Linked DNA regions of Homo sapiens: region 1 is linked to region 2. Evidence: fine-mapped expression QTL. Tissue or cell type: esophagus muscle. Region 2 holds a variant in brackets; the other region holds the start of a gene. All regions are shown on one strand. Distances are from middle to middle.

Evidence for each region. PIP is the estimated chance that this variant, and not a neighbour inherited with it, causes the effect.
Region 1: it holds the start of GLRB, and the variant in region 2 is fine-mapped to the expression of GLRB in esophagus muscle (GTEx, PIP above 0.99).

What each region holds. Positions count from the first base shown.
Region 1 is chr4:157,072,240-157,080,403 of GRCh38, forward strand. It overlaps GLRB (glycine receptor beta), which reads left to right and starts at 3,911. Exons shown (of 10, transcript NM_000824.5): 1 at 3,911-4,058; 2 at 5,757-5,907. The coding sequence starts at 5,786. RefSeq lists a silencer at 1,018-1,312.
Region 2 is chr4:157,162,794-157,170,959 of GRCh38, forward strand. GLRB (glycine receptor beta) reads left to right here. Exons shown (of 10, transcript NM_000824.5): 10 at 7,639-8,166. The coding sequence ends at 7,935. Among named protein-coding and RNA genes, the nearest start is that of GRIA2, 54 kb to the right of the region's middle. The variant GT/G (reference allele first, on the strand shown) is at 3,340.

The DNA of each region.
Region 1 (8,164 bases), 91 kb before region 2:
TATTTAGGCAATGGCAACAGTGATGAGTACTTATGTCACACACAAAAAATGATTTGGTGAGAATACTCTCTCTGTATCCAAAGTTTGATTTCTTAGTATAACAGAAGATATTTAGGGCTGTATTTAGGTTTTATTATCAAGTCAAATAAAATAAATATATTATAGGCCAGGTGAAGATGGATGCATAGAAAATAGAGTCCTTAGCTACCCAGGAGTCTGAGGTAGGAAGTTTGCTTGAGCATGAGAGGAGGAGGTTGCAGTGAATCAAGATCATGCCACTGTACTCCAACCGGGGCGACAGAGCCAGACCCTGTTTCAAAAAGAAAAAAAAAAAGAAAAAAGAAAGAAAAGAAGGTTAGAAGGTTTTTAGTGTTTAGATGTAGGCCTACAAAATGTTCTCAGTGTAGACGTACAAGAAAGAAATGGATAACAGGGTCCCAGTAAGCAAAAAATGCATGTACCCACAAAAATTAAAAATAATTAAAAAAAAAACAGCCACAACAAAATTCTATCATTCCATTAAGCAAATAAAAACAAGCAAAAATAGGGGAGGTTAATTCTTTGTGACTTTTCTTCTCTGCAGCAGATTTTTAACGTCAATTAACCTGTTTATTTCTTGGTACAATCCTGCAAATTATGCATTGTCATTTTCATTTTACTAATAAAGAAACATGAAATTTGAAGAAATTAATAAATGAGGCCAAGATTTACACATTCATTCAACACTATTCTAGGTGTGTGGGCAACATCAATGGACAAAAATAGATACAAATCTCTGCCTTCATGAAGCCTACATTTTAGCAAGGAAACAGAGGCCACAAACTGTAAGTATATTGTATGATGAGTTGGGAGGTAATAAGTACTATGAAAACAAAAAGAAAAGCAGGCAAAGGGGGATTGGAAATCTTTGGATGGGAGATGGTTTGCACTTTTAAATAACATTGGATAAATCTCTGTGAGACGGTGACATCTGGGTTGATGTTGAAGATATGAGGGAGTCAGTCATGTGGTGGTCTGGGGGGAAAGCATTTTAGACAGAGGAGCCAATAACCTAAGATGGGACCATACCTGGCTTTGGCATGTTGGAGAAGCAGCAAGATCAGCAGGGCTGAAAGAGAGCGAGCCATTAGGAGAGAAGAAGTCAGAGTTAGGGGGAGGAGATGCATAACAATTGAAGGTTTGTAGACCATTGTAAACACTGGTTTATAAAATGGGGACTAACTGCTGGGTGTTGAGTTGAGGAATGACACAATATGACCTATGACATGTTTTAAAGGGATCACTCTGGCTACTGTTTTGAGATTACTCAAGGGTAGGAGAGGACAATGATAGAGGCAGGGTGAGTAGCTAAAGTGCTATTATAGTAATCTAACGTAGAGATGAAAGTCACTGAGTCTAGGTTGGCTGCAGTAAAAATCATAAGAAGTAGCTGAATTCCTGTTGTCATTTGAGAGTAAACAGGATTTCCTCAGAGATTTGGTTGTGAGGTGTGAGAAAAAGAGCGGAATCAAGAACAACTTCATGATTTTTAGCCTGACCAACCCTAAGGATGAGGTTGCCGTGAACTGAGAAGGAGAAGGCTGAATGTGGGGCAGATTTTAGGGAGAACCATAGCTCAGTTTGGGACACACTGAGTTTGACATGTTTATTAAATACGCAAGTTGAAATGTTGAAAAGGCAGTTAGATAGATGAGTCTGGAGTTCTGGAGAGATGTCTAGTCAGGAGAAGTACATATGGGAGCTATCAACATGGTGTTTAAAACCTTGTGACCAGATGAAATTACTAAAGGAGTGAATATTGATAGAAATAAATAGAGAAAAGTAGATCAACACTTGACAGAATTGGGGAAAATAGGTTATTTCATGACATTATTTAGAAGCATCCCTTTTCACACTATGATATAAAAGTTATAGAAATATAGGTAAGCAGATCACTTTCATAGAAAAAAATTTTCAGAATTCTGAACTTGACCATTTTACAGGCTAGAAGAAGTGCTTTTAGGGCATCAACTATATTTCTTAACCTTTGGGCCAAAACCCTACAAACCCATCCAACCTGCTGGACTTGCTTTTCTTCTGAATAACCTAATTCTCCAATATAACATCCATGGATGGCACAGAAACAATACTAGGGAAGGTGAGCAAGTCTGTTGTAGGTATTTTCAGCATAGTTCTTCCAAATGTGGACATTAGAGTTTGTAAATAAAAGATGTTCATTTTATTACAGGAATCGGAATTCCTATTATTCTAAACTCTTAATAATTTCTTGATTAATTGAAAACTAAGTGTAAGGTTTTCGCCAACTTCTAAACTCCCCTGGCTGCATGAAAACTAATTCCTTTATCATTCTTCATATGACCTATTCACCAAAAGTTATATCTTATGAAACGTATATTATCAATATAGTTCTCTCTAATAAAGCATTAAAATCCAAAGTTATATCCTGATCCACTTTGGCGGGGGGGTCTTCAAACAGTACAGCTCTTTGAATAATGATCATTTTGTAATGTAAATAAGGTAATGATCACTTATTAATGATCACTACTCTTAGGCAGCAGAATATCTCATGAAGCTTATGGAACACGGTTATATGCAGGAAATATTCCTTCCCTCCATATGCTGCGGGTGGAAAAATTTATTAGTGGATACATCTGTGGGTCCACAATACAATGCTAAGTGATGCTCACTTGAGACAATGCTTTTTTAATAAAAAAAATCCATCAGGACCTGGTGCAGTGGGGTGGGGTGGCTCAAGCCTGTAAGCCCCCCAGCTTGGGAGGCTAAGGCAGGCGGATGGCTTCAGGCCAGAGTTGGAGACCATCCTGGACAACAAAGCCAGAGATGCTGTCTCTTAAAAAATAATAATAATAATTAGTGGAGCGCAATGGCCTGTCTGTTGTTCCAGCTACTCTACTAGGGAGACCGAGACAAGAGGATCTCTTGATTGCCCAGAAGTTCAAGACTGCGGTGAGCGATGACTGTGCCTCTGCACTCCAGCCTGGGCAACAAAGTGAGCTCCTGTTGCTTAAAAAATAACAATTAAAAAAAATCAATCAGGCATACATTCAAGAGGTAATAGGATAGCCTTATCTGTTATCTAAGGGCTGCATATCCAAGTAAGGGCTACTTCTTCACAAGGATGAGGACAACAGTATTTTGCTCTTATAAGGCAGAGACCCTGTCTGGTTCAGATATGCAAAAATCACTAATTTTGAATCTCTGGTAAATTTCTTTCAAGATCTGTAACTCTAAGTAAATCTCTTAATATAACTGAGTTTCAGATTCTTCATCTACAGAAGGGGATGACAAAACTTGCCCAGGAATGTGGTGAGGGCCACATGAGATAAGGCGAGTGAAAGGTGTTTTGCAACTGTCAAGTTCTGTACACATGTTAATTATGTAACAGATGTTAAACATAGTATTACCTGTATGACTATATTGTCAGTAATTTTGACCAATTTAAGCTTGCTCAGAAAGTTCAGGCTTTTAGAAATTGGAAGACCCGGAGATTAAGCTGGATGTCTGGGTTCCAGGCAAATGGTGAAATGACAGAAAATGTGTTTTGTTCGCTTTGACCCAAGAAGGTCATTTGTTGCTCTGTTGTTTGTTGCTAGTGGTCAAAAGCTGACCCCAAGCAATCCCAGCTCCTTGAAAGGTTTTTTCTTTTTGTACCGACACTATCATTCCCGCCCTTCGTCCCCAACTCCTTTAGTCCCCTAAGGAGTGAGGGGGGTACACATTTCTGCTCGGTAACCCCTCCAATGCCTGAAGGGGACGATGCCGTGACGTTGCTCTGTCGGGACACCTCTTCCCTCCCCCGCCCGCGGTCGCCAGGTTCCCCCGCGGCCCGCGCTGTCCCCGCTGCGGCCCCGACCGCGGCGCGCCACGGCGCAGGCTCCGCGGCCCGAGCAGGCGCGTCAGCCGAGCTCGGCGGTGGCGCGGGCGGCTGGGACGCAGCTGCCCCCGCTCGGCGCCCGCTGCACCCTTAGCAGCCACTGCCACCTGGGCCCGGAGCCTCCACGATCTCGCCCGGCGATTGTGGGCAGGGGCGCCTCCGGGTAAGTGCCAGGAGCTCCACTTAGGAGGAGGGGACGCGGGTTGGGGCGGCGACGGTGGTCTGAGGACGGGAATAGACGCCTTTGCGGAAACAGCGGGTCAAGCCCGGGGCGGCGGAGCGCGAGGAGCACTGCGGCGTGCCCGGGAGGACGCGCGCTGCCCTGCGCGGGAGAGGGGCGCGGGGCGCCTGGCAGCGGCAGCCGGGTCCCCGCTGCGGTGGCGCCCGCGGAGACGCTCCGGGTGGAGAGATGCAGAGGGCCGGGGTAATTAGGAAACGCAAGGTTGGCCAGGAGGGCTCCTTGCGTTGTTTTGTTTATGAGGATCCTCCAGTCAATGCAGCTGTCCCCCTTGAAAGATTGGGGGTGAGGACAGAGCAGAGTGGTGAATTTCTCTGTTTTTCGAAGCGTTAGGGGGGCTCGGCCCTCCTTTTTGCGGGGGCAAGGATGTGAAAGTGGGAGAAGTACCTGCTGCTGTGGGCAAGGTGTCTGGAAGCAGGTGCCGCTGTCGGATGGGGGAAGGGAGCGTCCAATGTTGTGAAGTTGCCAGAGGAGAACCTTGTGTTGTTGCTGTTGGTCTGATGAGCCCCCTCTGTTGTCTTCAATTTAAAGTACCCAGGGAGAAGCCCCTCTGGCTTGCCTGGAGTGTGTGTAAAAGATAAATATGGGGGGAAGAATCCTGGGGGGGGGGGGGGAAGATGAAAAACATGACATAAGGAGAAGCAAATTTCTGAGGGTGAGATGGGAATTAAGTTAGCGTTGAAGAATATGACAGGTCTTTTACTCTGCGGAAAACAATGAAAGAGAAACAATTTATGGTTTGGAAATGAAGGTTGCAGAAGAGTTTGAACTTCTCTAGTGTAGGTAGAGGCTTAATTATTTTTTATTTATCAGAATCTCTGGCAAGAATATGGTTCTGATTTGAGCATGAAAATGTTATTAAAATATGGCTAGGACGATAATTTGAAAAAAATGTAACAACACTTGTTTTATTTCTTGTTGTAGAATTTCTGAAGTAATCTTTTTGATGACAAATGTTAGTAGCAAATAAGTAAGAAAGCTTTAAAGCTAACTTAAGAGGCACCTTTTTGGGGCAAAAAGGTAGCTTGCCAATGTAATGTGTTTAAATAAAAAAAGCAATGAATTTTGAATGTGGAACTCTTTGATATTAACTTTTTCTTTTATCTGTCTTTTTTAATACTTAGAATTTCTTTTTCTTTAAAATACATTATTTTTGAAAAAATATACATAAGAACTTCAAACAATATAAAAATTTAAAAAGAAAAAGATACTTCCAAAGTACTAGCCGAAGATAATCATTTTAACGCTGTGTTAAACCATGCTTCCAGATATCTTTCTGAACATATTTTTGATATACTGTGCAATTCAATATCAATTTATAATTTTGTGTAGCTATAGAATCAGAAATTTTATACAGTAACCTATTATATCTCGTTGGCGGTCTTGTTTTCTATGTGCCATTATTTAAACTGACTTTTACTGCTATATAAAAAAGACTTTACAACTACTATATAAAAAATACTAAATATGTTGTGAAGTATTACCACATAGGACTGAGCAATGAGGATTTGATGTACAAATGTACTTGCCCTTTGGGTAGTAATGCTTATACTCTTTAAAGGGACAGTCATATAGTTATCATTTTCTTCATAAATGTAAACATTTTCTTGTTCTCTCTTGTAGATCGATCTTCTGAAATTCAAGTTTTCAAGATGAAGTTTTTATTGACAACTGCCTTTTTAATTTTAATTTCCTTGTGGGTGGAAGAAGCCTATTCTAAGGAAAAGTCTTCAAAGAAAGGGAAGGGGAAAAAGAAGCAGTATCTATGCCCATCGTATGTTCTTCATGTCTTATATTCTTATATGGAGAAATGTTATTGCGTGTTTTATAAAAGTAAGGTGGTTTATGAAGACACACATCAACAAAACTTTTCATATCGGAATGTATATCCATCTGTTACAGAGACAGAAAATGATAGGGTGAGGAGAGGTTTAGAATGTAAGAATTAATTCCCAATGTTCAAGGTGGTTTTATAGTTTTCTTTTTTTAAATCATGCCATGGGTTTATATAATTTTTATACACTGTTTACAAAAGTAGAAAAAGTCACTATTTTTTTCTTATGCTAAATGTGCTGTGCAACTTTAATTGGATACTGATATACTGTGTTTTGAGCAAATACCAGTTCAAAAAGTTTTTTTTTAAAAAAACCCTAAAATATTTAATAATATTTTATTTAAAAGTCAGATAGGTAACTGTGATCTTAAGGTCAGTTCATATGTATGCATGGCAAAAGGAAATTCATATGATAGATCAATTTTCTAATTTAGTAATTGTAAATAGGTTATATTAGGAGATTAGGATATTTTGTAGAAAGCAGGTCATTAAATTTGAAATTACTTGAAAACACAAATTCTAAATCCAACACATCCCCCACAAAAGACAAAGTTTTGTGGTGTGGAGTCTTGTTTATTTTTTTTAGATGAAGTCTCTTTCTGTCACCCAGGCTGGAGTGCAGTGGCACAATTATCTACTCACTGCAACCTCTACCTCCCGGGTTCAAGCAATTCTCCTGCCTCAGCCTCCCAAGTAGCTGGGATTACAGGTGCCCACCACCACGCCCAGCTAATTTTTGTATTTTTTAGTAGAGACAGGATTTCACCATGTTGACCTGTCTGGTCTCCAACTCCTGACCCTGGGTGATCTGCTCGCCTTGGCATCCCAAAGTGCTGGGATTACAGGCGTGGTTCACCGCACCTGGCCAAGTCTTTTTTTTAATAGGAAAGATTAACATTACTGGTCAATGAAAGTAAAATAGAGCAATTGTACAGTATATAAGTAAACAACTTTCTCAAAATATAACGTGCTTTTAGGTAATAATGCAATATATGCAGTGATTTGGAATAAAAGTTAATTTTCTATTACAGGTCATCTTCAATTAATATTTCTCAAATGTAATATTGATCATAGATAACATTTTATTCCAGCATCATTATTATTTAAATAGAGATTATTATGGTTTTACAGATGTTCCATAAGAGATGAGGTACATTTTGGGAAGTATATTTTGTAAAGAAAGGACACTAGAATTGGTATTTTGTAATAGGTGTTTGTATGAATTTGTGAGAGTAAAATTCTGGAGAGAGTATCATGATCCACGTAATGTCTAGCATTAAATTCAGCTCCATGTGAAGGGATATTTCCTGATTTTCACCCTTAATAGTCCTGCTTATTCTAGTGCTGCAGCATATTCTGATGTCAGGGCCAAATTTCTGGGTATATGACACAATGGCCCTGAATTATGTTTGTGTGTCCCTCCTTGGCCATCTGCCCAGCTGGATATCAGCTGGGAACAATGGAGGCAGGTTCAGGAATAACCACAATCTACAACCATCTCAACTCTTCACTGTTACTGTTTTTGTGCCACAAGCTGGAGATTAGCATTTTAGGGAACTGGACATTGTCAGGCCTTAGTATTCCTAAGCGAAAGGACACTTCTTTGTGTTTTAGATATTCTTTCTATTACCTTTTCTTTGATGAATGTTGGGACATTAACACAAACTGTTGTCTATGTCATATAGTCACCGTAATTCTATGTATGGAATCAAGCCATCTTGGGTTTCTGTATCTGAGCAAGCTGATAAGGCTCCTGTTCTCCCAGTACACCCACCCCCCATCCTACATCAAATGTCATAATCAAATTATTCTGAAGATGGCAACAGCAAATCTTATAACTACCATATATATTACGAGAGTATTTTAGAGGACATTCTCTTTTCACAACTACATTATTAAATAGCCTTATGTGTAGACTGTATATACTTACGGTGTGTATAGTTATTTAAGACAGATTTTCAAAGTTAAATTTAGTAGATAAAGAGTATAACAATAAGAGTTCTCTTCTGATGAATATGACATCTTCAAGTGGAAGACCCAACATATACCTGTTAAGCCCACATCTCAATATTTTAGATATGTTGAGTAATTAATTGAAATTTTATCTTTGAATTTTTACATTATAGGTTTTTTAAAAATAATTATGAGACTAGATCAAGCTTTATTAACAGTTGTGATGTGATGCTGCTGGAAGTCT
Region 2 (8,166 bases):
TGAGAAGGCAGTCTGTCCATTCTCAGATCTCAAACTCTGTGCTGGGAGAACCACTACTCTCTTCAAAGCTGTCAGACAGGGACATTTTAAGTCTGCAGAAGTTTGTGCTGCCTTTTGTTCAACTAGGCCTGCCCCCAGAGGTGGAGTCTAGAGAGGCAGGCAGGCCTCCTTGTGCTGTGGTGGGCTCCACCCAGTTTGAGCTTCTCAGCCACTTTGTTTACCTACTCAAGCTTCAGCAATGGCGGACACCCCTCCCCCAGCCTCGCTTCCACCTCGCAGTTCGATCTCAGACTGCTGTGCTAGCAGTGAGCGAGGCTCCGTGGGCATGGGACCCTCCGAGCCACGCATGGGATATAATTTCCTGGTGTGCCATTTGCTAAGACCGTTGGAAAAGCACAGTATTATGGTGGGAGTGTCCCGATTTTCCAGGTACCATCTGTCACAGCTTCCCTTTGCTAGGAAAGGGAATTCCCCAACCCCTTGCACTTCCCTGTGAGGCAGTGCCCCACCCTGCTCCATGGGCTGCACCGACAGTCAGACAAGCCCCAGTGAGATGAACCCGGTACCTCAGTTGGAAATGCAGAAATCACCCATCTTCTGCATCACTCACTCTGGGAGGGGTAGACTGGAGCTGTTCCTATTTGGCCATCTTGGAACCTATGATCATCACAGCCTTTTTAAAGTCCAAGCCTTGGCCCCCTCACCTCTTGGACATTGCTGGCATGTCCGTTGGGGTGGGGTGGGAGCACATTTTTTTCTGTAGTATTTGGCAAGAATAGAGAGGTTAATATCTAAAAGTGTTCTGTATTGCTGGGCTGCCCCTTTCTTTGTCTTCTGGCTAAACATCGGAGGCTGTTGGGGTTTTTATGTCTGTACCCATTGGCATTTCCACTTGCTGGCTTCTTTAGCTCCAAATCTGGGATTATATGAGACAAAAGGGGGAATGCAGGAACTCACCATTTTATGGTTCCTGGGATCCTGAGTCCCCAGGCTCATCTGCTTCCTCTTCTCTCCCTTTTATAGTCTGTCTGTGTGAGTGTGTGTGTGTGTGTGTGTGTGTTTTAATATAATGTCCAGGATTTTTTATTGAACTTAGCAGGAGGAATAGGAAAGGTATGTCTACTCTATCTTCCTGGATGTAGAAGTCCTCTATGCTTTTCGAGGCCCTCAGCATCCTCATCATACCTGCACCCTGCCTACCACACTCTAATAATTAAATAGATTTATCAATGGGCTACTCTTAACACTTTCATTGTTGTTGCTGTTCTGTCTACTGGGTCATTTCAGACTTACTAAAATCCTACACCAGGAAAACAAACATTTGGAGTAATTATTATTCCCTTTACCAGTATTTTTTTTTTTTGTCTCTGTTACCACCCAAGTCTAAGAAGCCACATAATATCCAGAAGAACTAAGGGATTGCTTAAGGGCATGCTTTGGCATGACGAAGAACTGGTATTGAAAGCATACTGTTTGTGAGAAACTGTGCTTCCCCTTCTAAAGCATACAGTTATTTCTCCAGGCCAGAAATGGAAGGAAGATTACCTGAGAGCCTTATGTTATGTGGAAGTGTTCTCTACCTGATTTTTTGACACTTGTTATCTACTCCTCGATTTACATCTCCCTATCTTTTACCACTTCCTCACATTTCCAGCCCACCAATCCCCTCTAACTTGACCTCTGGTTAAGAGATTTGGATACAGAAAGCAAGGATGCTCTATAGAACAGGTGCTTGATTCCTGGTAATCCCTACGATCAGCTCCATTGGCTGGTATATTATAGGTCCTCAATAAGCACAGGAATTAAATGTAGTAACAATACTAATAAGCAATTAAATTAAATTCTGTTACTACATTAAATTAAATGTAGTAACAGAATACTAATGTGCAATGATCCTGATACCTTAATCTATTCCATCAAGTAGGGGTACTGATAGAAGGAGGCTATCTAGAACCAGCTTTCTAGAGCATTGTAGAATACATTCAGATTATTTATGAACATGGATAGCAAGGATGAGAGGATCCATGAAGTAGTAAACCCAATTATGTTATTTTAAGTTTATCTTTAAAGCATTAAAATTAAAACTAATAATTAAAATAATTACCCAATAAATAAAAGTTAAACACATATAAGAACTTTTATATTTTAATTCTCTATGTTTTTAACTGCTCATAGAAACACACTTGTTTGAATTCTGAAACTGCTGTGACATTTTGCTTCAAAAGACAACGAGAGATGCATAGAGTTAAGAATTGACCAGAAATTTTAATCTTTAGAAATAAATGTAAATTACTTTTATTCTTTACAGGACAAAAATGCACTTTCCAGAATAAACTTTGTACCCATAGAATATTTGTTTCCTGAGACAGGCTTCAAAATGATAACATGAGTCTAATAATAACTTACATCAAATGTGTAACTTGATGAGTCATAAGATTTTACATATTGACATATGAAAGAAGATATAAAAGTAGAAATTTATAAATTATTATCTTTTTAATTCAATGGTTTTGCAATGAAAAATGTAATTAAACTTTTGGTTTCAAAATGCATTTTTTCTAATGTACTTTGCCTTTCTAAATGCAAACTTTTGCCAAATAATTTCAATATTGTTATTCAATAGAATAACAATAATAATTAACAGAAGTGTAATATAATTTGGATTGTAGGAAATGTTTGAAGCTGATGTATAAAATAATATTGTGCTTCCTAAGGAAATGAATGATTTAAAAAGTAGAAAAAAATTAAATGATAATGTATAGCTTTTACTATGAGGTTTTTATAATTTGTGGCCTGTATACAAAAACATGTTACCATGCCTATATAATTGTCTGGAGGATTTTTTTTCCCAGTAAAAGTGGTGCTTTTTCAGTCATTCCAATATCTTGGTTACTTTTGTTTGTTCATTCATGTATTCCTATTTTTATTCAACAAAGCAGTTAAGAACCTACTGTTGTTAATGTCACCCTATTTCTAACACTAGTATGTGCCATACACAAAGGTTTTATGAATAAAAGACAAAGAAAATAGTACCTATGCCTACAATTTTATATAAATTAGAAAATAAAAGCTGCTGTTTATATGTAAAGGAGATCTTTTAATGGTAATGATTTAATGGACTTAAATTTAGCAAAATATATACAAATTATTCCCTCTGAACATATTTTATTGTCTGTAGAGGATGCCATTATTGACATGAAATCGTGCCTAATTATTCTGGTCAAGAAATACTGCATAAAGTTATTTGCTTTTAAATTTGTGTGGAATGAAACTTAAAAGAACCACAAAGAAAATCTTAGAGGCTAAAGTTGGAGGCATTAGAAAGTTATTAATAGCATC[GT/G]TTTTTTATTCTTGACAGTTTCATTATCACACTACCTCATTTTTGTTGCCAATAATTTTCAGAAGTGACAGAAGTTTATATGATGAAAGTAAATGAGACACATATTTGTAATAAGGAACAACTGAGAAATTATTAATTGTAGGTTAATATAGCCAAATTCGCTTTTAAGAATGTGTGTTAAGTAGGGTTAATGTCTTGTTTATAAGCAGTTTATTTCATCTCTTTTCATGTGATGTTATAACTGTTTAAAATAGTATTTATAGTGTAAACTCTTTTGTACTTTCATGTATATATTTGATATGATAATAAGGTGTAACAGAAAATTTTCTTTGTGTAAAATCTGTGATGAATGGGGCAAGGAGACTAGCCAACTACTTAATGAACCATGACCTATTTAAGAAGCCCTGAGTACTTCTCATTAGGGAAACTAATCTTATTCTTTATTCAGTATGTCATTATCATTAAAAATTACTTCTGTAATAGAGGTTCCGTCCACCCCACATGTGCACCTCTACTTATTCTTGAATACAAGAATCTTCAAATATATCTCCGAGAGACGTTTTAAAGACTTAAATGGCTAGAAACTTAATATAACCAATTTGCAGCTTTTTTGGAATGCTTTGTAATGTTATGGCTTCAACACTGAAAAAATTATTCTCTTACTGACATGTTTACTATAAGTAATCTCTGTGAATAAACATAATATTCTATATCTATAGTTTGAATAAACTGGATCAAATCCTAATATTATTTAAATTGCTGGCAGAATTTATATGGTTATATAAATAAAATAGATTAGAAAATTGGAAATATTTATTTGTGGCCTAGGTTATAATATTATATAAATTTGGCCATTTGTTTAGTTATTTACAGATACTAAAACCACACCTAAAATGATATAAAAATATGATTTATAGCAAATGCATTTCTACAGTATATTCTAAATATACTTGGTTTTAAGCCATTAAGTCTATAGGCAGAATCTAGAGTACTCCTTTGTTATGATAAGTAGCTTCAAAAGCATAATGAGTACATCTAAAGCCTTTATAATGGGGAATTCTAAAGGGAGAAAGAGCAACTATGATACACATAGAATCCTTGATTTTAAAGATTTCTCTGAAAGTCTTAGGGCAATGCAAAGATTTGATATGTACAGTCTGTTCTCCACTTCTATTCCAATCAAGATAGTGAGTTACTCTTTACAAAAGTTCACTGATACATGTGGAGACTCACACATTCCTCAAACTGCACTGGAAAACTGAAGATTAAATGTGGTCTTCTCTCTGATGTTCTGTCTGTAACAATAATAGGGCAGATGTGAGTGTGCAAGTCTGTGTGTGTGTGCACATGCATGCATGCCTGTGCAAGTACTGTTGGAGGTGAGGTGGTGGACAAATTGATGAAAGTAGTCTTTTAAAAATTCAACTTAGATAAATGGGGCAAAAATTAGATGTATATTTGTATATGTTTCTGTGTGTGTGTGCATTTCCTGAAGTCATATTTAAAGAGTTTAGATTTTAGTTGCTACTTTTTCTCTCTCTCACTCTTTCGACTTGTGTATAGTCCGTTTTGTGCTGCTATAAAGGAAATACGTGAGGCTGTATAATTTATAAGAAAATGGGTTTATTTGGCTTATGGTTTTGCAAGCTGTACTAGAAGCATGGCATCAGAATCTGCTTCCAATGAGGGCCTCAGGAAGGTTACAGTTATGGTGGAAGGTGCAGGAAAGCTGGCATGTCAGATGGCAAGAGTGGGAGTGAGAGGGAGGGCAGGTGCTAGGCTCTTTTTAACAGTCAATTTTCACTTGAACTAACAGAGGGACAACTCATTCATTACCCCAGGGAGGACACCAAGCCAGTCATGAGGGATCTGGCCCCGTGACCCAAACACCTCCCACTAGGCCCCACCTCCAACACCGGGAGTCACATTTCAACATGAAATTTGGAGGAGACAAATATCCAAACCACATCAACCAGTTCCTATTTTTTTTTTTTTGTCAGACATTTTGCTAGATACAGAGTATAAATTGATAGGGACTAAAGCCTGTCCGTACTTCTTGATGCCATGCAGATGTAGGCACTGCTCTTTCACACTCAGTTGAGCTCTCACAATTGGTAAATTGTAACTGCACATTAAAAAAGTGGAGTGAGGGGGTGCAGACAAGAAGCCACTTTTTTCACATTGGCCTACTTCTTGACACACATTCTTAGAAGCGAATTTGGCTATATTAACCTACAATTAATAATTTCTCAATTGTTCCTTATGAATATGTGTCTCATTTACTTTCATCATATAAACTTCTGTCACTTCTGAAAATTACTGGTAACAAAAATGAGGTAGTATGATAATGAAACTGTCTAGAAAAAAAAATCATGCTATTAAATACTACCTCAAAGTCCTATTGAACAAGGATGGGACTATGTTTCCATTTGGGCTATTTTATAATGAACAATTGCTAAATAAGTCAACATGTTGGTGATTTACATCTTTTTTTTCAAATATCAAATGTATAGAAAGGTGAACTTCTAGTTCCTCAATCCCTATTCCTCATCAACATTTTTTGGGTATTTTTCTGCAAACATATTTACATAAATATCTTTTTAAAAGTTTCTTACCCACTGGCATTTTACAAATATATATATGGCATAAAGTATATAATAACAAAGCCAACATTTGTATGCTAGCTTAAGAAATATAACATCAATATATGCTCATAATTAGAGAAGAAATGGTAATAATTTAAATGTATAATCACAGAAGGATGTATAAATACATTTAACTTGCTTTGTCAGTCACTTTATCTTGGGCATTTTTGCTATCCACCTTTGAACACTGCTATCTGGCTCTTGTCTAGGAAATATATATATAAATATATGTGTATTCAGGTAAAGGATAGTCTCCTGGTACCTAAAGTACTGTTGAGGAAAGATTTGTTTTATTTATTGTGTGAGGTATAGTGTTTTTAACCCAGCTATAATTTAGTAAATGTAAATAGAATCTATAGAATTAGTCAATGTATTAATTATATTAATAAAGCAGTTACTAGAGTAACTGTGATATACTAATAATATACAATTAAATGGTTTCCATGTTCAATAAAAATTGAGTAAATGTCAATAGTGAAGATTCTGAAGGTGAATAGCAAAACTCAATGGTAAGAACAGTGAGAAAATGAAGCAATCTAGCCAAGAGCTAACCTTTTTGTGGACTTTTGTAATATGTAAGTGCTATTCTCAATCATTGGTATTAGCCTACTCCTCTAATCTAAGAGCATTTTGATTACTAGAGAGAGTTCAGCATAAAATATAATTGTCCTTTTGTATCTGTGGGGAATTGGTTCCAGTATCCCCTGCAGATATCAAAATCTATGCATACTCAAGTCCCTGCAGTCTGCCCTGTGGAACCTGTGGATACAAAAAGTTGACCCTCTATATCCATGGATTTTGTGAACACTGTATTTTTGATCTGCATTTGGATGTAAATTCAGAACCTATAGATACAAGGGGCAACTGTATTTATTGAAAAAAAGCCCATGTATAAGTGGACCCTTGCAGTTCAAACCCATGTTGTAACTGTAATTATTTTATATATTATAGGGAATTTATTCAAATTTAATAATTCAGAAATTAGTGACTGAATAATAATCTCTGTAGCATATGGTCTATCTGAAGGATACATAATTCCTTTGTATTGTCTGAGCGTGATTGGTTAAGTTCAGCCAACAAGTTGGGAATGCCTATCACTAGTAAACGTTTGATTCATGACAATTGTGACCATTTTTTAGTCCTTGTTTGTGAATGTGGCTTAGAGAAAGTCTGTCTCATTGGAGAGATAAATTACTTAGCATTTATAAACCGCTCTACTTGGAAATAGGATCTATAAGGAAGTCAAAGGCTAGTAATATCAGAACATTTTTATAATCCATACATTGTAGAATATTGTCTCTGTCATGGTTAAATATTGGAGCAAAAATGGATGTTTATTTATTAGTCCTACAACTGAGAACTTTCACAAGCCTGGTAGCACCTAAAATTAATCTGAGCTTTGATTCCTTAGCATGAAATAACCAATCAAAAGTTCATTCCATGACATAAGCCTTATTATGTAGGCAATATTTTAGAGCCCTAAATGCTCAGGCAATCTGATGGTTTAATCAGATAACCATTCTCTCTGTTAGTTCTTTGTGACATAAGCAAATGCTTCTTGTAGAAACTAGCAATTTTAAAAATATCGTTTGAAGAGATGTGTTTCGTAAGTAGAAAAGTTTTAAATACATTGTCTTCAATATTTATTCTTAGGTTGGTGAGACCAGATGCAAAAAAGTTTGTACTTCTAAGTCTGATCTGAGATCTAATGACTTCAGCATTGTTGGAAGCTTACCAAGAGATTTTGAACTATCCAATTATGACTGCTATGGAAAACCCATTGAAGTTAACAACGGACTTGGGAAATCTCAGGCTAAGAACAACAAGAAGCCTCCCCCTGCGAAACCTGTTATTCCAACAGCAGCAAAGCGAATTGATCTTTATGCAAGAGCATTGTTTCCTTTCTGCTTCTTGTTCTTCAATGTTATATATTGGTCTATATATTTATGATAAATCTTTTCCATTTGTACAAAATAAAATTCCATTTCATTGTGACCTACTCCTTTCATAAATGCCAATCTGTGAGAACTTTTGAATTTTCATAGCAACATTGCATTTTGGATGCCATTTGATTGTAATAAAACTGTGGCACCTTAATTTTGAATGGCAGCATGATCATGTAATATCTGTGCTCTAATAACGATGTATATATGTATAGTGAACATATTGCTTAGTAACAAA